Linked DNA regions of Homo sapiens: region 1 is linked to region 2. The links come from fine-mapping of genetic effects on gene expression. A gene starts in region 2. The other region holds a variant in brackets. All regions are shown on one strand. Distances are from middle to middle.

What was found. PIP is the estimated chance that this variant, and not a neighbour inherited with it, causes the effect. A credible set is the group of variants that fine-mapping cannot tell apart.
Region 1: its variant is the best candidate, but not a certain one, in a credible set for the expression of MARCHF8 in whole blood (INTERVAL, PIP 0.69).

What each region holds. Positions count from the first base shown.
Region 1 is chr10:45,599,398-45,604,779 of GRCh38, forward strand. No RefSeq gene overlaps it. Among named protein-coding and RNA genes, the nearest start is that of MARCHF8, 67 kb to the left of the region's middle. The variant T/C (reference allele first, on the strand shown) is at 2,454.
Region 2 is chr10:45,532,616-45,537,997 of GRCh38, forward strand. MARCHF8 (membrane associated ring-CH-type finger 8) reads right to left here and starts at 2,756. Exons shown (of 8, transcript NM_001282866.2): 1 at 2,596-2,756; 2 at 495-674. The coding sequence starts at 596.

The DNA.
Region 1 (5,382 bases), 67 kb after region 2:
AACTGTCAGTGTAGAGATCACTGAGACCTTGGGAACAGAGCAATTAAGATAAAGTGGTAGGATTAAAAGCCTGATTCTTGAGATAACAGATGGTGACGACAAGTAAATACAATCATTGCTTTCTTGCTGTAAAGGAGAGCAGGGAAATAGGATCATAGTAGGTAAGAGATGCAGGATTGAGGTTTTCTGTTTAAATATTTATATGCTAATACAAATGCTGTAATAACTGGATGTACAAGAAAGTGACAACTGTAAGAAGGAAAATCTTGAGTAGATTGGAGGAGTCATCCTTAGATAAGGAAAAAACAAGAGAAGGGGAATAGCAGGCCACAGATACAGATAGCTTGGTAGATTCGTTGTTGAACATGAAACTGACCCAATAGTCCCATAGACAGTTCTTTTGGCCAAACATAGAAAGTGACCCTTCTTTTCTTAAAGCTCGAAACTTACATTTGTTTTATCTGAGTTCCTTTCTCGGGAAGGACCCCTGGCCTCTGAAAAAGTATCAAATAATTGAAACTTACCAGATTACCACATTCAGACAATGAGATGCCAGACCCTTCCTTTTGTTTCCTTACCGCTCCCTAGTTCGTGTTTTCTAACACACTGTTACACTTCTTCCCCGCTATATAAACCCCAAATTTTAGTCAGGGAGATGGATTTGAGACTGACCTCCCATCTCCTTGGCTGCAACACCTGATTAAAGTCTTCTTCCTCAGCAGTGAGCACCAAGACTTAGACAGAATCCCCGATGTTTCTGTATCATGTGGAATTTCTCTTCGATTGTTGATAGTTTAATAAAATAAAAGCTGAGCATGACAAGAGGGAGAGAGGTGCTGGTGGTTTGAGAAAGGAGAGCATGTGACTATCATCCAGGAGCTGCTACAGCCCAGCCCAGCCCTAGGATCTCCCACGTGGATGACTGCTGTATATTTCTCTCAACTTCCATCCTTGCCTCCTTACAGTCTTTTTTTTCCTACACAATCGCCAAAGTGACTTTTCAAAACCATGTCAACCCCAGTATTTTCCCAATTCAGAATAAAATCCAGAAGTGTTTGGCTCTAAGTCCTGCATGATCTAGCCCCTATTTCCCATCGTCCTCTCACTTGCTTTGCTCTAGCCACCTGACTTCCTTGCTGTTCCTTAGTCTCCTCAAGAGTAGAACATTTCCTTCCATTTCTGAGAGGTGACAGCGTGCGCCCTCGCTCGCTCTCGGCGCCTCCTCGACCTTGGCGCCCACTCTGGCGGCGCTTGAGGAGCCCTTCAGCCCACCACTGCACTGTGGGACCCCCTTTCTGGGCTGGCCAAGGCCGGAGCCGGCACCTTCAGCTTGCAGGGAGGTGTGGAGGAGGCGTGAGCAGGAACCGGGGCTGCGCGCGGCGCTTGCGGGCCAGCTGGAGTTCCCGGTGGGAGTGGGCTTGGCGGACCGGCACTGGGAGCGGCCTGCCGGCCCTGCCGCCCCGGGCAATGAGGGGCTTAGCACCCAGGCCAGCGGCTGCGGAGGGTGTGCTGGGTCCCCCAGCAGTGCCGGCCCACCGGCGCTGCACTCCATTTCTCGCCGGGCCTTAGCTGCCTCCCTGCAGGGCAGGGCTCTGGACCTGCAGCCAGCCATGCCTGAGCCTCCCCCTCCTCCGTGGGCTCCTGTGCGGCCAGAGCCTCTCCGACCAGCGCCGCCCCCTGCTCCAGGGCACCCAGTCCCATCGACCACCCAAGGGCTGAGCAGTGCGGGCGCACGGCGCGGGACTGGCAGGCAGCTCCACCTGCAGCCCTGGTGTGGGATCCACTGGGTGATGCCAGCTGGGCTTCTGAGTCTGGTGGGGACGTGGAGAACCTTTATGTCTAGCTCAGGGATTGTAAATACACCAATCGGCACTCTGTATCTAGCTCAAGGTTTGTAAACACACCAATCAGCACCCTGTGTCTAGCTCAGGGTTTGTGAATGCACCAATGGACACTCTGTATCTAGCTAATCTGGTGGGGAGGTGGAGAACTTTTGTGTCTAGCTCAGGGATTGTAAACGCAACAATCAGTGCCCTGTCAAAACAGACCACTTGGCTCTACCAATCAGCAGGATGTGGGTGGGGCCAGATAAGAGAGTAAAAGCAGGTTGCCTGAGCCAGCAGTGGCAACCCCCTTGGGTTACCTTCCACACTGTGGAAACTTTGTTATTTCGCTCTTTGCAGTAAATCTTGCTGCTGTTCACTCTTTGGGTCCACACTGCCTTTATGAGCTGTAACACTCACCATGAAGGTCTGCAGCTTCACTCCTGAAGCCAGCGAGACCACAAACCCACCGGGAGGAATGAACAGCTGCAGACGCGCGGCCTTAAGAGCTGTAACACTCACCAGGAAGGTCCGCAGCTTCACTCCTAAGCCAGCGAGACCAGGAACCCCACCAGAAGGAAAAAACTCCGAACACATCTGAACATCAGAAGGAACAAACTCCGGACACGC[T/C]GCCTTTGAGAACTGTGACACTCACCGTGAGGGTCCGCGGCTTCATTCCTGAAGTCAGTGAGACCAAGAACCCACCAATTCCGGACATGTTTCCTCACTTCCTTTATAGCTTATTTAAATGTGACTTTCTCGAGGTTGTCTTTGACCATCCTTTGTGAAACAGCACTCCTATCAATGTCACCTTCCCCTGCTTGGTTTTTGTTATTAGCACTTATTGCCATCTCTGGCAGAGATTTATAGCACATTAAATATCCATTTGCTACCAGCTCCTTTCATATAACCCTTGCAATTAGGTCAGGCCCTATAAACAATGGGCTGTGAGCAAAAAGGGGCATATACACATCTAGGCAAAAGCACCAAATGCAACCCTCCAGCTCTGTCTTCCCCTGCTGCAGTGATCTAGACCACATGTTGCAGTGGTGAAGCCACAGAGTGGACACAGCCTAAATCACTGAGTCACTGCCTGGGTCAGCTGTTCTGGGAAGTTGCCTGGCTCAGTGAGTTTTCCATGGTGGAAAAATAAACTTTGTTGTGTTAAATCACTGAGCTTTTGGGATTGATTTGTTACCACAGCATAATGTATTATCTGATATGGTCTAAATTGTGTCCCTCCACCCCCAAAATTCATATGTTGAAGTCCTAACTCCCAGATCTCAGAATGTGACTGCATTTTGAGATAGGGTCCTTAAAGAGGAGGTTAAAAAAGGAGATTAGAGTGGGCCCTAATCCAATATGACAGATGTCCTCATAAGAAGAGGTGATTAGGTCGGGTGCGGTGGCTTACACCTGTAATTCCAGCACTTTGAGAGGCCAAGGTGGGCAGATGAGGTCAGGAGTTCGAGACTAGCCTAACCAATGTGGTGAAACCCCATCTCTATCAAAAATACAAAAATTAGCCAGGAGTGGTGGTGCACACCTGTAATCCCAGCTACTCAGGAGGCTGAGGCAGGAGAATCGCTTGAACCTGGGAGGTGGAGGTTGCAGTGAGCCAAGATAGCACCACTGCACTCCAGTCTGGGTGACAGAGCGAGGCTCCATCTCAAAAAAAAAAAAAAGAACAGGCGATTAGGACACAGACACACACAGAGGAAAGACCGTGAGAGCACACAAGGAGAAGATGGCCATCTGCAAGGCAAGGAGGTGTCAGAAGAGCTGGTTTCTGACCAAAAATGTGAGAAAATTAATTTGTCCCTGAAGCCGCTCAGTCTGTGATACTTTGTTATGGCAGCCCTACAAATGAATGCAGAATCCTAACACCATCTGGCATATTTGTTTTATTTCCTCTAGAATATAAATGTGTGATGAAAGCAAGGATGTTTAGTTCAACACTGTATCCACAGTACTTAATTGAGCCTGACACCTACCAAAGGCTCAATTAATATCTATTAAATTACTGAATACTGCATTTTAATGAAAAAGTTCAAAGAAAATCTTTCTGTGGCTCTACTCATTTTGCTAACTTTCTCTAATAAATTTTTAGACTCCTCTGCATTGAACTTTATTTTCATTTCTAATTTTGCTAGTTTGCTTTTCTTTCTTAAGGTAAGGTTGATGTGAATTTGGTTGAAATATTTCAGGACAACTGCAATTTTATACAATTCCCAGTATTCACTTTTTTCCTAATTTCCATTTCCTCCTCTATTTTGGTTTTCTGACATCTTTTCTCAAGTTTTAGATTATAGTTTTTCTTTCTTGGTAACATGGACATTTCTATATTCAATCCTTTCTGGAATAAAGAATATAGCACTATAAATTTTCTGGTAATGACAGCTTTGATGGTGCTCTCAAAAACTTAATAGGTACTACTTTAAAATGTAGTATAATTGATTCTAGAATTCTTTGATCTACATGTGAAGATTTTTTTAGCCATTATTGCTATAGATTTTAATGACAGTATTTTGCAACACAGTATTTCTAAGAAGGCAATGCTGACTTTTATATTTTATATGAATTTTCCTGCCTCCAAAGTGAACTTTTTATAAAGCAATTATATAAATGAGAAAATGAAACCCCTACTGTTTGTCCCATTCTCTACAAAAATCTAAAAGCCACCTTGTTTTTCTCTGCAGACTCACTCTATCTACAATGGGTATCAAGGCACTTGGTACCTAGTCTATTCCACTTCTTTCTGCAGGTATCTTTTCTTAAAAGTTTTTTTTAATAAACTATTCTTAGAACAAGTTTAGATTTACTGAAAATTTGCAAAGGTAGTTCCCATACATCTCACACCCACTCTCCCCTATGAACATCTTACGTTACTATGGTATATTTGTTACAATTAATGAGCCAATAATGAGACATTATTTAAAGTCCATGCTTTCTTCAGATTCCCTCAGCCTTCCCTTTTCTGTTTCAGGACCCCATCCAGGGTACGACATGACATTTGTCAGTATGTCCCCGTACTCTTGGTTGTGACAGTTTCTCATACTTTCCTCTTTTCAATAACCTTGACAGTGTTGAGAAGTACTGGTCAGGTATTGTGTAGAATGAGCCTCAATGGACAGTGTCTAATGTTTTCCTCATGGTTACACTGGGGTTGTGGGTTTTGAGAGGAAGACTACTAAAGTGTCATTCTCACCACATGGTATCAAGTGAACACACTAGCAACATGATTTATGCCTGCTGATGTTGACCTTCACTACTTGGCTGAGGAGTTTGTCAGGTCTCTCCACTATAAAGTTACTCTTTTCTCCATTTCCAGACTGTACTACTTGGAAGAAAGTCATTATGCATAGCCCACACCTAAGACTTGAGGCGTTTGCTCCTCCTCCTCCTTGGGAGTGGAGTATCTACAGAATTCTTTTGTGTGGAGAATACGGCCCTTCTCCCTTATTTATTAATCTATTTATTTATATCAGTGTAGAATCATGGATATTTATTTTATACTGAGTTATAAGCCAATACTACTGTATTTTGTTGCTCAAATTGT
Region 2 (5,382 bases):
ACCTCACCAGAATCCAACCATGCTGGCACCCTGATCTCAGATTTCCAGCCTCCAGAACTGTGAGAAATAAATGCTTGTTATTTAAACCACCCAGGCTATGGCATTTTGTTACAGCAGCTAGGGCAGACTAAGACACATATTAAGAAATTCCAGCCATCTGGTGTCCAAATTTCACACTACGATGAATAGGAAACTAGCAGCATCATGTTCTGAGAATCCAAAGAACTTAGTCACAGTGATTAACCAAAAATAATCAGGTAGATTTAACCAATGAAGATAAGTCATTTATAACCATTTATAAACAGTAGTTTACACCAAAATCTGAAAACCTAGAAATCTACAAAAAGACAATTCCTTCTGAGTACAACTATTTGTGTGCTTGTCAGTATATTATCAGAGAAAACCTGACCTTTAGAGTTTAAGCACTGTTCTAGGTCATCTTTAATAAAAATTTAATAAAAATAATGAAACTAAAAAAGATACTCTCCCAGTACCTGTTCTTCCCTCTCCTTTTCTTTGGTCTTACTTCTGTAGACTCTAGCAGAGATGGCATCCTGGGATGGAATGGCAGAGATCTGATGCAGTGGCATGCTCATCCCAACCTCTTATCTGGTCGTCTTCTTCACAGAAGAGAGTCTCCACTGGTAGAGTCATTTTGGGCCATGGATTTCAAGCTGAGAGAAAATGAAGAGAGAATAAACATAACTCAGCTAAAACACTTTAAATTTCCAAGAGTGAGCTTAACATTTTATACTTATATTCATATGTATATTTAAATAAGTTACGGCAACATAAATGTTTGGTCTTCAAAAACAATAGAAGATGAATGTCTAAGGGGAAAATTCTAACATTTCTCATAATAAGATGGGAGCACCTGAAAGAGGCAGGTGGATCACGTACATGTATAATCAGAGATATAATCTTCCATTGGCTACTTAGGATTAAAACAAAGCAGTGCCACCATTTATTTTAAGAATATTTTTGAAGTTAAACTTTTTTTTTTATCATGACCAAGCATTTGTCCTGAAATAAGCAGTGATCTTTCCTTAAAACCACTGTCTGTGAGTCCACATAATGGTGAGATCAGAGGTTAGGAAGTCCAAATTAAACTCAAGGTATCTATGATCCATACTTAACCTTCCAAAAGTAGAGACTCTACACGAGCTGTTGGCAAACTATTCCTATAAAGGGCAAGATACATATTTTAGGCACTGTGGTCCAAGTGTGTTCCAGCTAATTAACTCTGCCACTGTAGCATGAAAGCACCCATAGAGAGCATGTAAATGGGCCGGGTGCGGTGGCTCATGCCTGTAATCCCAGCACTTTGGGAGGCCAAGGCGGGCAAATCACGAGGTCAGGAGATCGAGACCACCCTGGCTAACACGGTGAAACCCTGTCTCTACTAAAAATACAAAAAATTAGCCAGGCATGGTGGCGGGCGCCTGTAGTCGCAGCTACTCAGGAGGCTGAGGCAGGAGAATGGCACAAACCCAGGAGGCGGAGCTCGCAGTGAGCCAAGATCGCACCACTGCACTCCAGCCTGGGTAACACAGCGAGACTCCAACCCCCCAACCTCCCCCCCACCAAAAAAAAAAGAGTATGTACATGAATGAGCATAGTTATGTTCCAATAAAACTTTATTTACAAAAATAGGCAGCAGGCTAGATTTGGCCCACCAGACTATAGTTTGCCAAACACTGCCGTAAAGGGTTTCCTAGGGAATATGAAGGGTCACCATGACATGCCTAAGAACCATGAGAAAGGCTGCCTTTAGGTAAAATAACAGTGTATGCATAAACTGTCTTCAGTGATTCCAGGTACTCCTGCCCTGTTTCTGGTTTTCTCTTACGCATCCCCCAAAATGTCTAATAATTGAATTGTGTGTTGTTCTTTCTCCCCACTTACCCACTGAGATCTATCCCACTCTGTATACAAAACCAATTAAACGTAAATTATCCAGAAGGTTTAATGTAGTAAAATGTTTCATGTTGTTCAAATTTTAACAGAAAATGGAAGCCTTCAACCAAAAGAATGAATCTCGAATTTGGAGATTTTCATTTATTAACCATGTGCTGGGGTAGGGGGTGGGGACAGGTGAGGCAGTAGGAAAAGGTAGGGTAAACAACAGGGCCTGACAACCCCAAGGTCACATTTGATAAGCAGTCACTTACTCTACCTCTCCCCAAACTCTACTCTGGATCAAAGGCAGGTGTTTGTAAGGCTGGTGCCAATTCTTAGTAGTGTCACTAAGCAAGCAGAGGAGCACCAGGAATCACGAAATGGCTTCCTTCACACAACTCTAGAATCAATGAACAACAAAAAGGAACAAAAACTGGGAGGGATCAACACATAGAAGAAAATTAGCTAAAATAATAATCTGTTTATAAAGTCTAGTTTTACAGTAAGTGAGTGACCATTGATAATAACAACAAAAAAAGGAAAATAGAATAGGGGATGTTAGTGTCTAGGTATCACACACCACCTACTCTATTTCAAGCCTTTGATGAGGCTGGCATAAGATGGAGCACTACTGTGCCCAAGAAACAGTCTGAATGTTTGTATTCAAGCACGTCACACAAAACAAGAGGCACTTACTGCGGAGCTGCCTTATACTCCCTGGGAGATCACAATAGTCAGTGGTAAGCAGTTTTTTCATCACTAATGCACTAACGTCCTCTATTACAGATGACAAACTCCATGGGGCCTCTTGGAATACTTGGTCAAACTGACGATATCCACAGCCCTATACCTACCATGCCAAAAGCTACCTGTGGTGCTTCTGATATAATCATCATTATTACATCATTGGTACATGCCCATGACAAGCCTGAGAAGGGCTATTTATGGCACAGAAACACAGATGCAAGAGGGTCTCAAATTTTTTACAGTTTTGAAGGACATCCCTCCTCACTGTCATTGAAGTTAGTCTTTTGATATGTACCACCACAACAAAGCAACAGACCTATAAGTTTGCCTGAAACAATCTCCCTCCTATGCCACACATATTTAGGATAAAAATGAGTTTACAAACAAACGATAAAACAGGCCATGCCATTTTTTATGTGAAGATTTACATGAAAAATACAAATCATATATTACATTATTTTCTTTGCATAATTTCCAAACATCTTTTATATCAACTAAATTAATCTTTACACAGAATAACAGTTAAACCTCAGCACTATGCCTCACAATCCAGGCATGAGGGCTTCAATTTGACTAATGCTAACTTGCAAAATACAGCCCACCTAACATGAACATTCACATCTAGAAGAGATACTGCCAAAGCTGGTTGTTGAAGAAATTGGAAATGGATGTCCATGTTCATGGATCAGAAGATTTAATATTGTTAAAATGGCAATTCTTCCCAAGTTGACATAGAGAGTCAAAGCAATCTCTATCAAAAACTGAGCTGACTTCTTTACAGAAATTTGACAAGCTGATCTGAAAATTTATATAAAATTCAAGGGACTCAGATCTGCCAAAACAACCTTGAAAAAGAACAAAGTTGGAGAGCTCACATTTCCAGATTGCAAAACTTACAACAAAGGAACAGTAATCAAGACTGTGTCATACTGGAATATGAATAGATATATCAATGGAATAGAATTTAGGGCCCAGAAATAAACCCACGTATCTATAGTCAGCTGATTTTCAAGAAGGGTGCCAAGATCACTTCTTGGGGAAAGAGTACTGTTTTCAACAAATGGTGCTGGGACAACTAGATAGCCACATGCAAAAGAAATTTGGATCTCTTCCTCACACAAAAGGAAAAACAGACAAACTACACATCATCAGAATAAAAACTTTTGTGCTTCAAAAGACACCACTGAGAAAGGGAAAACACAGCCAGTCATAATGGTTCACACCTATAATCCCAGAACTTTGGGAGGCCAAGGCAAGAGAATCTCTTGAGGCCAGAACTCAAGAAAGGCCTGGGCAATATAGCAATACTCTACCTCTATTTATAAATGTTAAAAAAAAAAAAGTCTAAAGACAACTGACAGAAGAAAAAGTTTGCAAATCATATATGTAATAAGGGACTTGTATCTAGAATATATAAACAACTCTCTTACAACTCAGTAACATAAGGGCAAGGCCAGGTGCAAGTAGCTCACGCCTATCATCTCAGCATTTTCGGAGGCTGAGGTGGGAGGACTGCTTCAGGCCAGGAGTTCAAAACCAGTGTGTGAAACATAGCGAGGCCCCATCTCTACCAAAATAATAATAATAATAATAATAATAATAATAATAATAATAATAATAAAGACAAATAACCCAATGAAAAATGGGTTAATCAACATCATTAGCCATCATGGAAATACAAATCAAAACTATTAGATATTACTTTAATTATGTTCATAATAAAAGACAAACAAGTGTTAGCAAGGATGTTGTGACACTGAAACCCTCATATACTGCTAGTGAGGATCTATGCAGTCGTTTTGAAAAATAGTCTGGCTCTTTCTCAAAAGGTTAAACATGTTATCATATGACCCAACAACTTCAATCCTAGGGTATATACACCAAAGAGAAATGCAAACATCTCCTCATATGAAAACTTGTCCATGAATGTTTCTATCACATTACTCATGATAGCCAAAAGGTGGAAATAACCTAAACGTCCATCAAATGATAAACGGATAAATCAAATAAGCTATATCCATTCAACGGAATCATATTCAGCAATAAAAAGAAATAAAGTACTGACACATGCCACAATATGGACGAACCTTTAAAAAGTTATGCTAAGTAGGCCAGGTGTGGTGGTTCGCGCCTATAACACCAGCACTTTGGGGGGCCAAGGTGGGTGAATCGCTTGAGCCCAGGAGTTCCAGACCAGCCTGGGCAACATGGCAAAACCACATCCCTACAAAAAACTCAAAACTTAGCCGGGTGTGGTGGCTCATGCCTGTGGTCCCAGCTACTCAGGAGGCTGAGTTGGGAGGATCGCTTGAGCCCAGAAGGTTGAGGCTACAGTGAGCCGGTATGGCGCCACTGCACTCCAGCCTAGGTGATACAGTGAGACCTTGTCTCAAAAAAAAAAAAAAAGAAAAGAAAAAAATTATACTAAGAAGCCAGTCACAAAGAACCATATATTACATGATGACAGTTGTATGGAATGCCCAGAGGAGATAAATCTATAGAGACAGAAAGTAGAGCAGTGCATGCCAAGAGCTGGGGTAGGAATGGGTAAACGGGAGGAAGCAGTGGATTCAATGATTTATTTTTAGGATAATGAAAATATTCTAAAATTGACTATGGTGCTGGTTGCAGAACTTTCGAGTATATTAAAGCCATAGAAATAGTAAAAGGACTAAGATAGATAGAGAAAATTTTAATTTTTCCTTTGTGTTATCCCTAATCTAACTAATCTAGATG